Regions from separate parts of the Homo sapiens genome. Here region 2 is linked to region 1. The links come from fine-mapping of genetic effects on gene expression. Tissue or cell type: whole blood. Region 1 holds a variant in brackets; the other region holds the start of a gene. All regions are shown on one strand. Distances are from middle to middle.

Region 1 (11,040 bases):
GAGTGGGATCTCCACCCAGACCCCTGAGGCATGTGTTCCAGCCTTCCTTAAGAATGGCCCAGTGGCCTCCCTGGAGCGCTGCGCCCGGCTGGAGGAGCTGGCAAGGTTAGCAGACACAACCCAGCTCCCGAGCGGCCAGGCCTCACCCTCAAGAACTCAGCCTCAGCCAGGGAGGCTGATACATGAGTGGGCAATGGTGGCCTCTCGGTAAAGAAGGGGGATTGTAGTCAGGGGGGCCCTCCTGGAGAAGGGGACACCAAAGCTGAGTCTTGGCAGTCAAGTGTCAAGTTGTATCTAACAAAGAAAACAGGGTAGGGAGAAGGACATTTGGGGGGATGGCATCATCCTCACATTGAATCCATGTTGCAACATCCAACCCAAATCCTGGCGCCTCTGCTAGGAAGCCTGCCAGGGTGCCAGCCTGCACTGAGCAACTCCTTCCTGGAGTCCCGAGACACCTTGAATCTTCACATCACCCAGGCAGGGTGGGGCGGGGCCGGTGTCTTACCACCTGCTTCACAGACAGGGAAACCCCAGCTCAGGGCAGGTGCAGTGGGGCGGGGCCCCAGACAGCCAGGCTGAGGCCTTGCTGGTCGGGTCTGTCTGGAGAGGAGGTGCTGGGACCTGTGCTCCCTCTGCGCCCAGCCCTGCAGGGGTGGAGAACTGGGACCGGCAGACTCGGATCTGGGATGTCCCCACCCCCTTGCCCAGCAGGCGCCCGCCCCTACTCAGCATCACACTGGCACTGCATCGGTGCTCGTTGTGGGCTGGGGGGCCAGGGCGCTCCAGTCCAGGGACTGAGCTCTTGGGGGCCTTAGAACAACATGAGGAGCTGCGGCAACCCTAAGACCCCGCCCCGTATCCCCCGCGGCAGGCCTGGGGCTGCCAGGGAGGCCCCCGCCCGGTGCTGGGGACACCTGGTGGTCAGAAGCGGTCCCTGTGGCCTCCCAAGTCCCAGCCAGACGGGGAAGTGCCAGGTGTCTGGCCCAGAGGGACGCTGCTCACTGCTCAGGGGCTGGCCTGGGACCCAGGGGACGGGCCTTCCAGAGGGGACTTTATCTCTCTTAGTCATGCCTGCTGCCCACTCCGCCCACCCAGGAGGAAGGAAAGGACGAAGTAGTCCCTGAGAGGCCAAAGTCCATGGCTGGGGTCAAGGGGCACAGCCCTCTGGGCCTCATGGTGACTGTGCTGTCAGCGCAGGCCAGCTTCCCACAGGGAGGCCCCCTCGGAATTCCCCCAGGGCTGCTGTCTTTCCAAGGCCACACCCTCCTCCTTGTGTAGAGGTGCCGGATCCAGGGCCCAGAGAGGTGGCAGAGAAAGCCGGTTTGGATGGGGCCTGGAAGGCTGGCAGAGAGGCAGGGGTAAATGGGCATCTTTGCCGATTGCCTCTAAAATGGGGTCCCCTTTAGTCTACATGTGAGAGTGAGCCCTGGAATAGGGTGGATTAGGTGTGTCCTGGCTCAGCCTGCCACCCACTAGCTGCTGCACGCACTACAGGCACATGCAAATGCACATGCACGCTGCACGCACAGGGACACACACACACACACAGAGACACATGCACACACATGGACATGCACACATGAGCACACACAGGCACAGGCACAGAGACACATGCACACATGGACACGCACACGCAAATGCACACAGGCACACGCACACACAGGCACAGGCCCCATGTACACACAGGCACATGCACAAATACACAGGCACATGCACACACACGGACACGCACACGCAGATGCACACAGGCATATGCACACATAGGCACACACAGGCACACGCAAATGCACCCAGGCACATGCACACAGGCACACACACAGACATGCACACACACAGGCACATGCACACGCAAATGCACAGAGGCACACGCACACAGGCACGTGCACACACACAGGCATACACGGACACAGGCACATGCACACAGAGACACATATGCTTTGGCTGGCTCCTTCCTGTTTAGTTGGGATGCCACCCGCTTCAGGAAGCCCTTGCCTCCCACCCCAGGCTGAGTCTGGGGCCTCCTGGGCCCCCACAGGCTCCTGGGCTTGCCTCTGCCACAGCCCTGGCCACCCTGTGTGATCAGTGTTCACTCCCAGGTCCCCCAGAGGAGCAGGGACGTTAGGCTCAGCCATGCACCCGGCACAGAGTCCAGTGTTCGGTGGGGCTGGGGGGCGTTGGATGAGCAGTGATGTGACTCGGGCCCTTCTCGCACCCCTGCCCTGTGTGTGGGGCGGGGCCGTGAGGGCATGGGCTGCTGCATCTTAGACTTTGTCCTTGGCCCTGGGAGCCATCTTGAGATGGTAAAGGGGAATGGGCCAAGCTTGGGTCTTAGAGAGGTCCCTTGGGTGACCCCCATGTGGAGGAGGTGCCTGGGGAGAAGCTGGGTGGGGGATGGGAGGGTCAAGGAGGAGGTCTGGGAAGTGGCATCCCAACCCAGGGATGGTGAGTTTGAGCCACAGATGCATTGAAAATGGGAGTGGATGTCTGGGGCATCACACTCCGTCAATATTTCAGGGAAGATTCCCAGAGAGGACACCTGGGAGATGCTTTTATACCTGGCCCGGCCCATGGAGGGCCTGGAAATGGTCAGCATGGACAGGGGCCAGAGGGAAGCCTGGGTCACTCAACACTGTGCCCCTGCTGTGGCTGGGAGCCATGGGTCCTGCATGGAACTCTCAGAGCAGGCAGGATCCGCCCCAACCTCAGCCCACGGGGAAAGCAGCCACTGCCTGCAGAGAGGGTGGGGCTGGGACAGGAGGCTCGGGGTGAGTGGGGTGTAGGGACAATCAGGAATCCTTCCAGGGGGTGCCAGGGCCGTCTCCACCTCCTGCAGCTGAGCCCACAGCAGTGTCACAGGCTTCGGGGCTCATGGGGTGAGCCAGCATTGGCCGGACATGTGGAATGACCTGGGCACAGGAACGGCCTCTGGGGAGACTGGCTCCGAGTCCCCCTTTTGCTGAGCATGGCCTGTCCCCTTCAGGACCCGTTTGATGCAGCCGGGTACTACCAGCTGGCGCTGGCAGCCGCCGTGGACCTGGGCAACAAGAAGGCACAGCTGAAGATCTACACGCGGCTGGCCACCATCTACCACAACTTCCTCCTGGACCGTGAGAAGTCGCTCTTCTTCTACCAGAAGGCCAGGACCTTCGCCACAGAGCTCAACGTCCGCAGGGTCAACCTGCCTCCTCTGCCACTCTGCGGGTGGGCCCCCTGGTTGGCCCCCAGCCACCCTCGCTGAGGACAGCATCCAAGGGAGTGGGTTTTGTGCAAGGGCTGGGGGTCTCCTGCCTCTCCTGGTGTCGCCGGTGGCTCATTTTCTGGCAAATGGAGGCACGAACGCAGGGGCCAAATAGCAATAAATGGGTTTTGTTTTTTTTTTGCAATAACTTAT[T/C]GAAGTCAGCAGGGCATCCTTCCCTAGTATGCTTCCTGGGGCGTGTCTAGGGGCCAGCTCCCTTCCCTGGGGGCAGCCCTGCTGCTATGTCCTGATCTTGGGTATGAGAAGGACCCCGAGTCCAACAGACCTGTGCCAGGTCACCATGAGCCTGGGTTTCGTTGGCGGCCAGAGGGGAGACGGTGGTGGAACTCCCTGGGCAGCTGCTCGGAGCTTTTGCCGTAGGTCTTGTGCCACCCTTGCCTTTAATCCTCAGGCCACTGTGCGCGGAGGTGGGGGCTGCTAGTGCCCCCATTCGCCAGTGAAGAAATAGAGACACAGAGAGGTTAACTGTCTGGCCCACCATCACACAGACGCAGAGCCCAGTGCGCTGACCACACCACCCTGCCGGCCTGCTGCCAGGAAGGTGCCCCCATTAGGACCCAAGGTCAGTTCCTGCACCTCTCTTGTGGTGTCAGGAGAGCCACAGGGCGGTGAGGGTGGCCCAGGGGATCCCCCACTAAGTGTCCTCTGGTCCCAGACTTGGCTGGGCTGAGCCTGACCAGTCCCACCTCCAGCCACTGGTCAGTCCTGTGGGAAGTGAGATGCAGGGATCTCTGCCTGTGTAGACGCTGCTGCCCAGTGTTGAAAGCCTTTTCTGGGCTGCCCCTCAGCCCTCCCCATGTACCCCTCCCCTTCCGGCCCCCGGCCCTCATCTCAGTCCCCAGGAATCCCAGGTTTTCCTTCTTGGAATCTCTTGGCCCCAGGAAACACGGCTCACACGGTCTCTTCGCCAGTTTACGGCAAGGAAACCGAGGTTCAGAGATTGTGGGTGCCCCACGTGATTCTCACAAACACTGCACTCTCCCAGGCCCCTCTTTTAAACACTTTTAAAATGAGGTGACATTCACATCGCATGAAATTAACTATTTCAACGTGAATAATGTGGTGGCATTTGTGCACTCACAGTGCTGTGCACCCACCCACACCGTCTAGTTTCAAAAGGCATTCATCTCCCCAGAAGAAACCTCCCGTCCTCATTAAGCAGTTACCCCTCCTTGGTATCCCCCAAGCCCCTCTCCTGGGGTCCGAAGAGGGACTTGCCAGTGAGCGGAGCTCTGATAATAAGGAATCAGGCACCCACTGCTGGTCCAGGCCTGGGTTGGTTTTCCACCCAGCAGAGGTGGCAGAGCCAGGAGGGTCTGGGAGCGCTACAGGGGAGCCCCATGCTTGCCGCCGGAGCCCTGCCCCGCCCCGAGCTTCCCCACCAGGGGGCAGCAGAGAGCTTTCCAGAACCCGCCGCGGGGCTGGAGGGAAGCAGTGGCTCAGAGCTGCTGACAAACCTCATGTTGACCCCAGACCGCTGTCTCTGTGGGTTGGGCTTGGGAATTGGAGAGGAGGCCGCATGATTGGAAACATGAAGACGGCACGGCCTGGCTGGAGCAGCGGGAAGCGTCGTCACGGTCACTGAGGACACAGACCTCCTGCCTGCCGGGCCGGGCCTGCAGCCATTCCTCTCGGGGTGGGGTCTGCAGTTCCGGGTTGCTCTCAGCCCCCGACCTGCCTCAGAGTCCTGGGGGCTTTGGGACTGTGCCTCCCCATTTCCACCCACCCTGGCTGGTGCCATCAGGGGCCTGGATCCTGGGATCCTGTTCCTCTCGGGCAGCAGAGCATGGGGGACCAGAGGAAACGGTGGGTCTTCAAGCCCCACATTCAAACCCCAGCCCACCACTCACAGTCTGGGGGTTCGGGGTGAGGGAGTTGATTTCTCTGAGCCCCAGTTTGGTCACCACTAAAATGAGACTGACATACTGGGGCAGAGTGCCAGCCCCAGGGCCAATAGAGGCCTGTTTCCTACTAACAATACTTCTTACTCCTAAGAAAAGCTCCAACAACCACACGCTATGGAACACTCAACCCAGGTCAACTTGTCAGAGACATGTGAACCAGAGCAGCTCCATCTTGAATGGGGGCTGGGTAAAGTGAGGCTGAGACCTGCCGGGCTGCATTCCCAGGAGGTTAGGCATTCTTAGTCCCAGGATGAGATAGGAGGTCGCACAAGATACAGGTCATGAAGACCTTGCTGATAAAGCAGTTTGCAGTAAAGAAGCCGGCCAAAGCCCACCAAACCCAAGGTGGCCACGAGAGTGACCTCTGATTGTCCTCACGGCTCATTATATGCTAATTAGAATGCATTAGCTGCTAAAAGACACCCCCACCAGCACCATGACAGTTTACAGATGCCATGACAACGTCTGGAGGTTACCTTATAAGGTCTCAAAAGGGAGGGGAGAAACTCTCAGTTCTGGGAATTGCCCACCCTTTTCCTGGAAAACTCATGAATAGTTCACCCCTTGTTTAGCATATGATCAAGAAATAACCATGAAAATGGGCAACCAGCAGCCTTTGGGGCCGCTCTGCCTATGGAGTAGCCATTCTTTTTTTTTTTTTTTTGAAATGGAGTCTCGCTCTGTTGCCCAGGCTGCAGTGCAGTAGCGTGATGTCGGCTCACTACAACCTCCGCCTCCCAGGTTCAAGCAATTCTCCTGCCTCAGCCTTTCTAGTAGCTGGGATTACAGGAACCCGCCACCACGCCCAGCTAATTTTTTGTATTTTAGTAGAGACAGGGTTTTGCCGTGTCGGACCAGGCTGGTCTCGAACTCCTCACCTCAGGTGATCCACCTGCCTCGGCATCCCAAAGTTATGGGATTACAGGAGTGAGCCACTGTGCCTGGCCAGAGTAGCCATTCTTTTATTCCTTTTCTTTCCTAATAAACTTGCTTTCACTTTATGGACTCGCCCCGAATTCTTTCTTCTGTGAGATCCAAGAACCCTCTCTTGGGGTCTGGGTCGGGACCCCTTTCCAGTAACAAACTTGCTTAACCTCTCAGACCCTTCGTCTCTTCATCTGTCACCAAAGACAAAGCCTACCCCAAGGTTCCAAGAGTGAGGAGAGAATGCATGGGAAACGAGGGGCACAGAGTTGGTGTGCAGAACCAGGCAGCCAGTCCCGTTGTTCTGTGGTGGGTGGAGGTCAGGGCTCGGCTGGCTAAGGCCTAAGCCCACTGGTCTCCAGCCCTGCTCTGCCCGTCGGAGGCTGGTTCCCGGGCAACAACCGCCGCAACAACAACCCCCTTCAGCAAAGTAGGCATGAGATGAAGAGATGTCCAGTGGGCACGTGCCCAGCTCTACGCAGCCAGTGGTCTCGCAGCCCAGAAGCCAGCTGCCCCAATTTTAGAAGGAGGCGGCCATGATCCCCAGGTTAACTCAGTCACCTTCCCACACACATTCAGCAAGCGCCCACTGCATGGGCTGCAGAAACTGCCTCAGGCAGGTGCAGGGAACTCCAGGAGTGTTCCAGGCCCTCCCAGAGGTGCTCCTGGGACTGCAGCTGAAATCACACTCCTTGTTGGGGTCCCTGGAGACTCTCCCCTGAACAGAGATGGAAAGAGCCTTGCCCAAGGTCACACAGCCCCCTCTCCTGACTCAGAGGCAAGGGAGCTCCGCCCAGCACAGCCGCCTGCACTCTCCTGGAGCCCACATCCTTCCCTGTACTGGTTCCTCCAGGGGTAAATATCGGCCGAGTCCAAGTTGGACCCTCATTTTGGATGAGGGAGCCGAGGCTCAGAGAGGGAGGGTCACCATCCTAAGGGTATGGAATGATCAGCATCCCAAGGGAACTGGCTGACCTGCTGCTGTTCCCTTGAATGGAGAGAGCACCATCTCCACACAAGGGAACAGCAGGGCCACCCAGTTCTAGGCAGGATTGGGCAGCATACAGGCCACCATTCCAAGGGTGCCCAGCAAGTCTACATCAGCCTTACCTTCGCCACGGAGCCCAGGAGTTGAGAGGAGGTGGTTTACGGCCCAGCGTGAGGCCAAACTCTCTCCTGAGCAGGGTTCTCCGGAGATGGGAGAGGCCACCTCAGGCAGAAGTGAGCTCCCCGTCTGCAGAGGGGTTCAAGCAGGCCACAAGGGTCTCCCACGTGAGTGGAGAAGTGTGTCCGGGTGACACTGTTTGGGCATAAAGGTGCCCTTGGACTCCAGTTGGCGCCATCAGTGATCCAGACTGTGTTTCCAGGGAGCTTGGCCGCAGTCAACTCACACGCCCTGTGTCCAGCGCCCGGCCTGGGGAGCAGGCTGTGGGTCTTAGGCCGGGCAGCTGGCGAGACCTGTGCACCGGCAGCAGGGTGGGGTCTATGCAAGCTCAGGGGCAGGAAGCAGGCTTGAGTCCAGGCTCTGCCTCTCTCTGACTCGCCCTGACCCAGAGCACCGGGCAGTGGGCTCCCGTTCGTATGCCTTGCCCCTCTGCGAGCCTCAGTTTTCTCAGCTATAAAATGGGGCAATGAGATGTACCTTGCTGAGCTACTATGAAGATCAACAGCATCGTAGGAAACATTTAGCACATTTTCCAGGGCTTGTCAGGTCCTCCAGGGTTGATGGAAAAACACAGCGAAAAGAATAATATGCCTCCCCCCAGATGGAAGTGCAGGCAGGCGGAATTCTAAACTGACTCTGCGTGCCTCCTTCCTCTTCAGCACAGGTGAGTCTGGGCTGTGATAGGATTATCACTTCTGCAAGTAGGTTGCAGTACGTGGGAAGGGTGAAGAGGTCTGCAGATGTAATTAAGGTCTCTAATCAGTTGACTTGGAGTTATTCAAAGGAAGATGATTGCAGATGGGCTTCGCCTAATCAAGTGAGTCCTGTGTAAGAGGGTTCAGCCTTCTCTGATTCTCCTACTGGCCTGGAAGTAAACAGCTTCCAGGCTGCACAGCACAGTAAACAGTGGGCTCCCCACAGAGAGGCCGGCCCAGTAGGGGCTGCAGGCTCTCTAGGAGCTCAACGGTCCCCAGCTGGCAGCCCTCAAGCACACGGGACCCCAGACCTACAATGGCACGGAGCTGAATTCTGCCAACAACCACGTGAATTTGGAAGGACGCTGAATCGTGGGGGAGATCACAGCCCAGCTGGCACCTCAATTACAGTTTGTGGTGACCCTGGGCAGAGAATCACATGAGGCTTCTGATGCAAGAAGCAACCCAAGAAAGGGGCGTTGCTTTAGGCTGCTGAATTTGTGATAATTTGGTACACAGCATAGATAGCAAATACAAGGCCAAGCCTAGGAATGGGGAGGCCGAGCCCCAGGCATCCCTCCAGCCCTGAAGGACTCATGGTGGGCGGTAGCCAGGCAGCCCTTCCCGAGGTCGCCTCCTCGCCTGCCCACTTACCTGTACCAGCAGGTCCACTCCTCAAACTGAGGTCTTCACGTTCAGCTCCCACACCAGGAATTAAGGAAGAAGGGAGAAGGAGGAGTAAGGCAGGAGAATGGGGAATTGGGGTAGCCAAGGGCTGGGGCATGAGCAAAGGAATAGCAGGTGCGGCCAGTTAGAGTAAGCCAGAGAACTGCAGGGGCAGCTGGTTCTAGGCAGGACTGGGCGGCACCCAGGCCACATCCTCGCTTCTGCGATAACAACACAGAAATTTCTACCGCAGCCTCTGATGGACCGCGGGCCAAGTGTCCACTTCACCTCTGATGGACCGCGGGCCAAGTGTCCACTTCACCTCTGATGGACCGCGGGCCAAGTGTCCACTTCACCTCTGATGGACTGCGGGCCAGTCCTTCATAGGGCGTAGCCAACTGGGGGCCTCTCGAGGGCACCCAGGGGTGTTGCCAAGTTCTTTAGCTTAATAAACACGTGAATTGAGGGGCCCTCAAGCCGCTTGCTAGAGCCGCTCCCACTCTGTGAATTGCACTTTTGCTTCTTCAGGAAATGTGTTTTGGTTGCTCCGTTCTTCTGTTGCTTGGTCTCTTGTTGCTTCTCTTGTTGCTTTGTGCGTTTTGTTCAACATGCCAAGACCCTGGACAACTCACAGTAATGACCTTCCATCGGGGAGCAGGGGGGCAGGTGTTGGGACCCCTGGCCTCCACCCTCCACCCAGCTGTGTGACCCCAGGACAGCCTGGGCTTCAGGTGGCCTTCTCTGCAGAGCACAGGGCACACGTCCTGAGCCCTGGCGTGGGCGTCCTGCGAGCACGGCCTCCTGTCCTGGACCCTGTTCGTCCGCTGCCGTGCTCACCAGGCCAGCCCTCGGTAACCCGCCAGAGCCAAACACAGGATTTCACAACCCCGGCCACTTTGGCCTGGGTCTGTGCGGCATCCCAGGAAAAGAGAATTCCAGGGCCAGGAGGTCTCCAGGAAGCAGGGCCGACCTCGTCCCTCCCATAGCAAACACGGCAGCTCCTCGTCTGTGACGGCTCCGATAAGCCCAGACTGCAGGATGAGGAGACCTCTGGGGACTCATCCGCATGGGGAGGGCTGGGTTTCCAGAGAAGTCTGAGAGGGGAGGCAGTTTCACAATGCCAGCACCCCAGGCTTCAGGCCAGGCCCAGCCCCTCTGGGGAGGATAGCCGGTGCCAGTCCCCTTGCCCTGTCCCCAGAGCCTCAGGGACTCCAAGAGGCCCAGGGGCAAGCCTCTCCCTTCACCTCCTGACCCTTGTCGGCCCCAAAGGGGAGCCCCTGTGTGCATCCCCACCTCCTATGCAGGAACGCACAGCAGACTGGCTATCTCCAGGCCAGCAGGGAGGACCCCGCTGTGTGGTCACGGCTCACACTGCCGGGCCCTGTGAACACACCCGTTCCCGACAGGGCCTGGATCCAGGGCAGAGTGCAAAGCTGGGCTGGTTCTGACCTAAGCCTTGTTTCCAGCACAAGCTTCGGGGGCCCCACCCGGGATGGGCCATGGTGACGGAGGAGGAGTGATGTTACCTTCCCACATGGATCCCACATGCTCTGGGACAGCCCTCCCTGTGCCGGGGGAAGTGCCCTGGAGGGAAGGAGGCCCTGGGACCACTGTGAGCTCAGCCTTCAGCCTTATGGGAGCTTCACCCCAAGCCCCTGACCCTGTAGGGACAGATCAAAGGAACCTCCAGAGCCACCTATGCTCTGGGGTCCCACTGGTGATCAATGCTCTTAGCAAAGGAGAGATGGTGTCGACCTCAACCTGACCAGGGCTTTCTGCTTTACCTAACAGCGGACGTAAGAAGCATTCCACTCAAGTTCAAGAGCAAGGCTCATCGTGTGGTCAACATTATACTGGAAGTCCCAGACAACGCAGCAAAACAAGGAAAAAGAAATCGATTCAAAGAATTGTTAAAGAAGAAACAAACTGACATGATTCACAAATGACAGGGTTGTTTACCCAGAAAATCCAAGACATCCCAGACAGCTTTTAGGGTCACTAAGAGGCCAAGTTTCCTGGGAAAAGAGTAAACAAAAGTCAATTCCATTCCCACAGACCTGGAACAGTGAGTTGGGAAATGCGATTATAACAATTACGCAATGTTGAATATCAAGAAGATAGACACTATGTATGATGGTTAATACTGTCAACTTGATTGGATTGAAGGATACAAAGTATTAATCCTGGGTGTGTCTGTGAGGGTGTTGCCAAGGGAGATTAACATTTGAGTCAGTGGGCTGGGAAAGGCAGACCCACCCTTAATCTGGGTGGGCACCATCTGATCAGCCTCTCACGTCCTCCTCAAAAACCCATTCCTGCCACATAACAAACCCAAAGGTGGAAAGCAAAAATGATGTTAACTTCTTTAAAAAATGAGGCTATTGGCCAGCCGTGGTGGCTCACGCCTGTAATCCCAGCACTTTGGGA
Region 2 (5,000 bases), 44 kb before region 1:
AAGACTGGAGCGATGCCACCTCTAGCCGGAGCATACCTGGAGCCCCAGAGGCTGGAGCAGGCAGGAAGAGGCCTCCCCTGGAGCTTCTGGAGGGAGCATGGCCCTTCCGACAGCTTGATTTTGGACTTTTGGCCTCCAGAACTGTAAGAGATGACATTTCTGCTGTCTGGAGACCCCAGTTTGTGGCACACAGTTGTGGCAGCCCCATGAAACTGATAGAGTGACTGCCCCTCGACGAGGCCAGAGAGAACACCATCTTCCTCCTCAGACGCAGCCGGGGCTGGGGAGCCGTGTCCCCGCAGGGAAGAAGAGCTGGTCTGGGAGCTGCGGCCCCTCTGCCTGTGGGTCAGACTTTCAGATTGCTGCCACTGGGGATTCTCTCAAAGTGTCCTTTGGTGCCTCTGAACCCTCCAACCCACCGTGTGCTCACTGAGCATGTTGATGGCATGGAAGGTGGGGCCTGGCCAGGCCGGGCCGGGGAGCCTGGAGGCTGGGCCCCTAAGGGGCTTGGGCCTCACCTGGGCCATCCTCGAGTTCTTTTCAGGGCAGCGAGGGGCATGCCTAGGGCATCTGCAGCTGCACCCCCGATCCCGGGCCCTGGCCTCAGTGGGGCGGAGGGAGGGTGTGACTTGAGGGCTCACCGTGCAGGATGCAGGGACTTGAGGTAAGCGTCAGCCCCTGGGCAGAGCCTGTGATTAGAGAAAGGTGAACAGGACGGGAGGGCGAGGATGAAGGACGCAGGTGTGGGCTGGAGGGGCTTTGACCTGAGTAGCTCACCTGGGCTGGGAGTTCTCAGCCTGGGGTGACTTCACCCCCAGGGGATCAATATCTGAGCTATGTTTGGCTGCTATGATTAGAGGAGGGGGCTACTGGCATCCAGTGGGTGGAGGCCAGGGACCAGCTAAAACCCTCCAGTGCACAGGACAGCCCCCCGCCCTGCAACAAAGAAGGATGCGGCCCCAAATGTCGGTAGTGCCTTGGTTGAAAAGCCCAGCCCTAAAGCCTTCAGAACCAGTCAGACCTGGTTCCAGTCTTATCTTCTTGTTGGTCACTGGCCTTGGGCATGTCACATTACCTCCCTGAGCCTTAGTTTTCCTGTCTGTGAGATGGATACATAACTATTTGACTTAGGGATTATTCTTGGTTTTCTCAAACCAGGTGTGTGTAAAGCTCCGACCTATCACAGCACAGGCTGGAGGGATCCCTCCCATTCCCACTTCCTAGAGCTGGGCCGGAGCCCGCAGCCCACACCCACCACGTGGGTGCTCACACTCCTGTGTTGGCAAGGGCATCAGAGCAGGCAGACAGGCGGGACCAACAGGGCAATTTGAGTTCAGTTCTGCCTCTTGTCCCAGCTGACGTGAGCCCAGGCCAGGCTTCCTCAGCAGGCAGGGGCGAGATTACGTGCTTTGGCCTTGGGTCTGCCTGGCTGGGAAGGTTTCTGCTCTCAAACCTGGCTCAGGCCTGGAGACGGTGGGAGGGTAAAGAGGTAGACCCGTTGGGACAGGCCAGGCTAGCAAGGAGAGCTTGCGGTGAGGAGGAGGGGAGCCCATCTCTTCCCCTAAATGTTCCCATTGATGGAGCCAGTGGCCCGGAGGGCACCCGGGCAGAGACGGAAGAAATTGCACGTGAGCGTTTGTGTGCATACGTGTGCCTGTCCATGTGTGCACACACTTGTGCTTGTGAGTCTCTGTGTGCCCATGCATATGTATGTGTGTCTGCATGCACATGCGTGTGTGTGTGCATGCATGTATGTGTGCAGGCATGCGTGTGTGTGTGTGTGCAGTAAATGGAAGAGGAACAGAGATCAGAGCTGAGGCTGGCAGGGCTGAGGCAGCCGGTGGCTGGTGGACTTCCCCAATCCCAGCCTGGCGGGGGACTGGGTGCCCCTAGCCTCTACTACAGAGCCTGGGGGCTGGGCAGCGGGCAGGCAGGACAGGGCCTGGACCTCGTCCAGGAAAGAGCTAATGATCAACCGGCTGCGGTGTCTGTGCAGCCGCCCTGGGCCTGCCTCTCCGTCACCGGCCCTCAGGCGCAGGGAGGAAGTAGGGCAGGAAGCAGGGGGCGGAGGCCGCTGTGCAGTCAGCCTGGCTGTGGGCGGCCCCTGCCTGCTCCGTCCAGCTGGAGACAGCCCCGTGGGGCCAGCCAGCGCTGGGCCAGGAGCGGCCACCTGGTTCCTGCGTGCTACGGCCCTGTGGGCCTGGGAGCTGCCTCTGAGGAACACGCCGCAGGTATGGGGGGCTCCGGGGCAGGCGGGGCGTGGACTGGCCGAGCAGGCTGCTGTCTGCCAGTCTTGCCATGGTTGGATCTTTACACTTTCTTGAGGACTTTTCTGACCTGTTTGGGATGGGGGTGGAGCGAAACTGCGAGCTGGGGGCCTCGGGGAGGTCGTCGGCACCCTCAGCAGACCCCACTCAGAGCTCACAGGTGCTGGCAGTGCCAATCCGCAGTGATTGAGGGCAATGATTTCAGCTTTGACCAAGCACCCTTGCTTCTGGGACCTGGCCTGACCCCGTGCTGGCCCTTGGCATGAGCGGCCCTGGGGGTCTGGGAGCAGAGCCAGCCTGTCGCTGGATTCCAAGTCCAGCGGATCTCAGGTGTGACCCCAGCGCCCGGTTAGCTTGGGCCACACTACCAGACCTACCAGGGCGAGCCCAGCGCCTCAGCCTCACCCGGCACCGCAGTGGCTATAACTGGCCACTCTGATGCCGCCACCTGGGCCTCTTTTCCAACAACCAAATGGACCAGCAACTGGACCAGGGGCTTCAGCCTGAAAATTCCAGGGAGGGTCTGGGCCCAGCCTTCAACTGCAGGTGTGCCGGGGCGTGTGCTCCTGTGTGTGTACACCACTGAGACCCCCTCTGGGCCTGTGCGTGATCCCCAGGAGCCCTGGGAGCCCTGCCCTGTCTGTGAAGCGGGAGTTTCCAACCTTTTGCCGTTGACGAGGCTCAGATGAGATGAATAGCAAAGTGACGCTGGGGGGTGTTAGCGGTGTCGGCCAGTGCCAGGGCCAGGGGCAGCCTGCATGTGGGCCGGCCACTCAGGGTGTGGCCTCCCAGCGCCAGGCAGCGGGGCTGCGGCTGAGCTTGTGGCTGGAGGCAAGGCTGGGCCCGAGTCAGGTCTGGGTTTAGGATGGGTATGTGGGGGCTGGGCTCTGACCACCTGGGTTCAACCCCACCTGTGCTGCTTGGCTGTGTGACCTTGGGCAGGCAGAGTCACCGCAGCTGATGGCTCATCCGTGAAAGGGGCACAGCTGTGCCTCCCTCCTCCAGGTGAGCCGAGGATGCTGTGAGCACCCTGGATGGCCATAATTATGTGACTGTCAACACTGTTGTTGACAGTGATGACAACTGTGTCCCGTGTGGGGCGCTGGGCCAGCGTTTTTTGCATGGAGACGTCACTCACTCTTCCAGCAACACGGGTGACGATGGCCGCACAACACAGAAGAGCAAGGCAGGGCCCAGCAGCGCACGGGTGCGCCGGTTTCCCCTGCTGCCAGAGCGCAGGACACAGCCCTCTCGGTCGTGTTCTCTCGCGGCTCTGGAGGTCGGAATTCCGAACTCAAGGCGTCCCTCAGAAGGCTACTGGGCGGCTCCTCCCTGCCTCTTCCCGCTGCCTGTGGCTCAGGGCGCTCCTTGGCTGTGATTACATCAGTCCACTCTCCGCCCTGGTGGTCACATGGCCTCCTGCCCGGCTCCTCTGTGTGTCTCCGTGTCCTCTCTTTTACTTACAAGGACACCACGCACTGGATTTAGGGCCATCCTCATCTGGAACACCCTCATCCCAAGGGAAGGTCGCTTCATCTGCGCAGACCATTTCCAAATAAGGCCCCATTCTGAGGTTTCTGGGGGCATGAATTTTGAAAGGACAGTGTCACCCCAGGATGCGAGGTGACAAGCCAACCCTCCGGAGGTGCTTGGTGGCATAGGTGAGGTCTCAATGGCCCTAGAAGTATTTGTTCCGTAAGAGCCTGGCGAAAGCTTGGCCAAAGCTTCCCAAACCCATTCAGGGCTGGCCGCGGCCCTCTCCCTTCTTCTTCCAACCCACATTCACCAAACTCTGACTGTGGACCAGGAGCACTGTCCCTTTAACCCACTCGACCCACTTGTGCGGTGTGCGTGCTCATTCTCATTTTCTGGCTCAGTAAATTGAGGCATGGAGAGGCCTCCCAGACACCGGGGTTTGGCCCCACGTCTCCGTGTTCTGGAGCCAAACTCCACCCCTTCCCCCGGGGCTGGAGGCTGGCCTGGGGCTGGAGCCTGTTCTGACCCATCCAGGGCCCCCCAAGGGTTTGTCCTGATGATAAACTGAACAAACAGGATGAAGGCAGGAAGGAGAGAGTCCTGCAGGCTGCTTGGTGGTCCCCCAGCTGGGTGAGCTGGCCCCTGGGGGCGTCAACACCTGCCCGTGGTTGGGGCCTCTGCTTGTGCAGTGGTGGCTGGGCCTGCAGGGCTGAGGGAGGGGACGCTGTGGAGAAGGAGCTCACTTCCTCATCGCCAGGCTCTGCACAGGAATCCCACGCTTAGGGTTATAACAGCAGGTGGGAAATTCCCTGAGCCTGGGGAGCCCTCCTTTTCTCAGAAGACAGTCTCTGAGTACCAGCTGTGTGCCAGGCCCGGAGAAGCCCTGGATGCCGTTTCGAACAGGCCTGTTCCTAACCCAGGGGGAGGTGGTGGGCTGGGAGGCAGGCAGGTGTCCCGGGCATCAGCCAGTGGATGGAGAGAGGCTGCTGGGACTCCTGCTCTGCCTATAGGGACATAAGACCCAGCTTCTGAGGGACAAAAAGGCAGAGATGGGAGGACAAGGACTCCAAGGTCAGGCGTTCGGAGCGAAAGACCCCTTAAACCAGGGAGCTCGCATGCCCAGGGAGTGGATTCCAGCGCTTTGTTGAGACGCCTCCATGTGCTTCCGGAGAGGAGATGGGAAGACAGCCTGGCCTTGCAGGCAGGGGCTTCCTGGTGCTGCCACAGACTCAGGGCCAGGTGGTGGGCACAGGCAGC

The links. PIP is the estimated chance that this variant, and not a neighbour inherited with it, causes the effect.
Region 2: SH3TC1 starts here. The variant in region 1 is fine-mapped to the expression of SH3TC1 in whole blood (TOPMed, PIP above 0.99).

Annotation. Positions count from the first base shown.
Region 1 is chr4:8,237,715-8,248,754 of GRCh38, forward strand. It overlaps SH3TC1 (SH3 domain and tetratricopeptide repeats 1), which reads left to right. Exons shown (of 18, transcript NM_018986.5): 18 at 2,984-3,389. The coding sequence ends at 3,241. Among named protein-coding and RNA genes, the nearest start is that of HTRA3, 27 kb to the right of the region's middle. RefSeq lists enhancers at 157-1,017, 1,018-1,876, 4,346-4,907, 6,930-7,431 and silencers at 754-803, 4,624-4,753. The variant T/C (reference allele first, on the strand shown) is at 3,395.
Region 2 is chr4:8,197,175-8,202,174 of GRCh38, forward strand. It overlaps SH3TC1 (SH3 domain and tetratricopeptide repeats 1), which reads left to right and starts at 2,116. Exons shown (of 18, transcript NM_018986.5): 1 at 2,116-2,231. RefSeq lists enhancers at 1,353-1,452, 1,803-1,922, 2,953-3,002, 3,133-3,182, 3,313-3,462 and 1 more and a silencer at 2,133-2,322.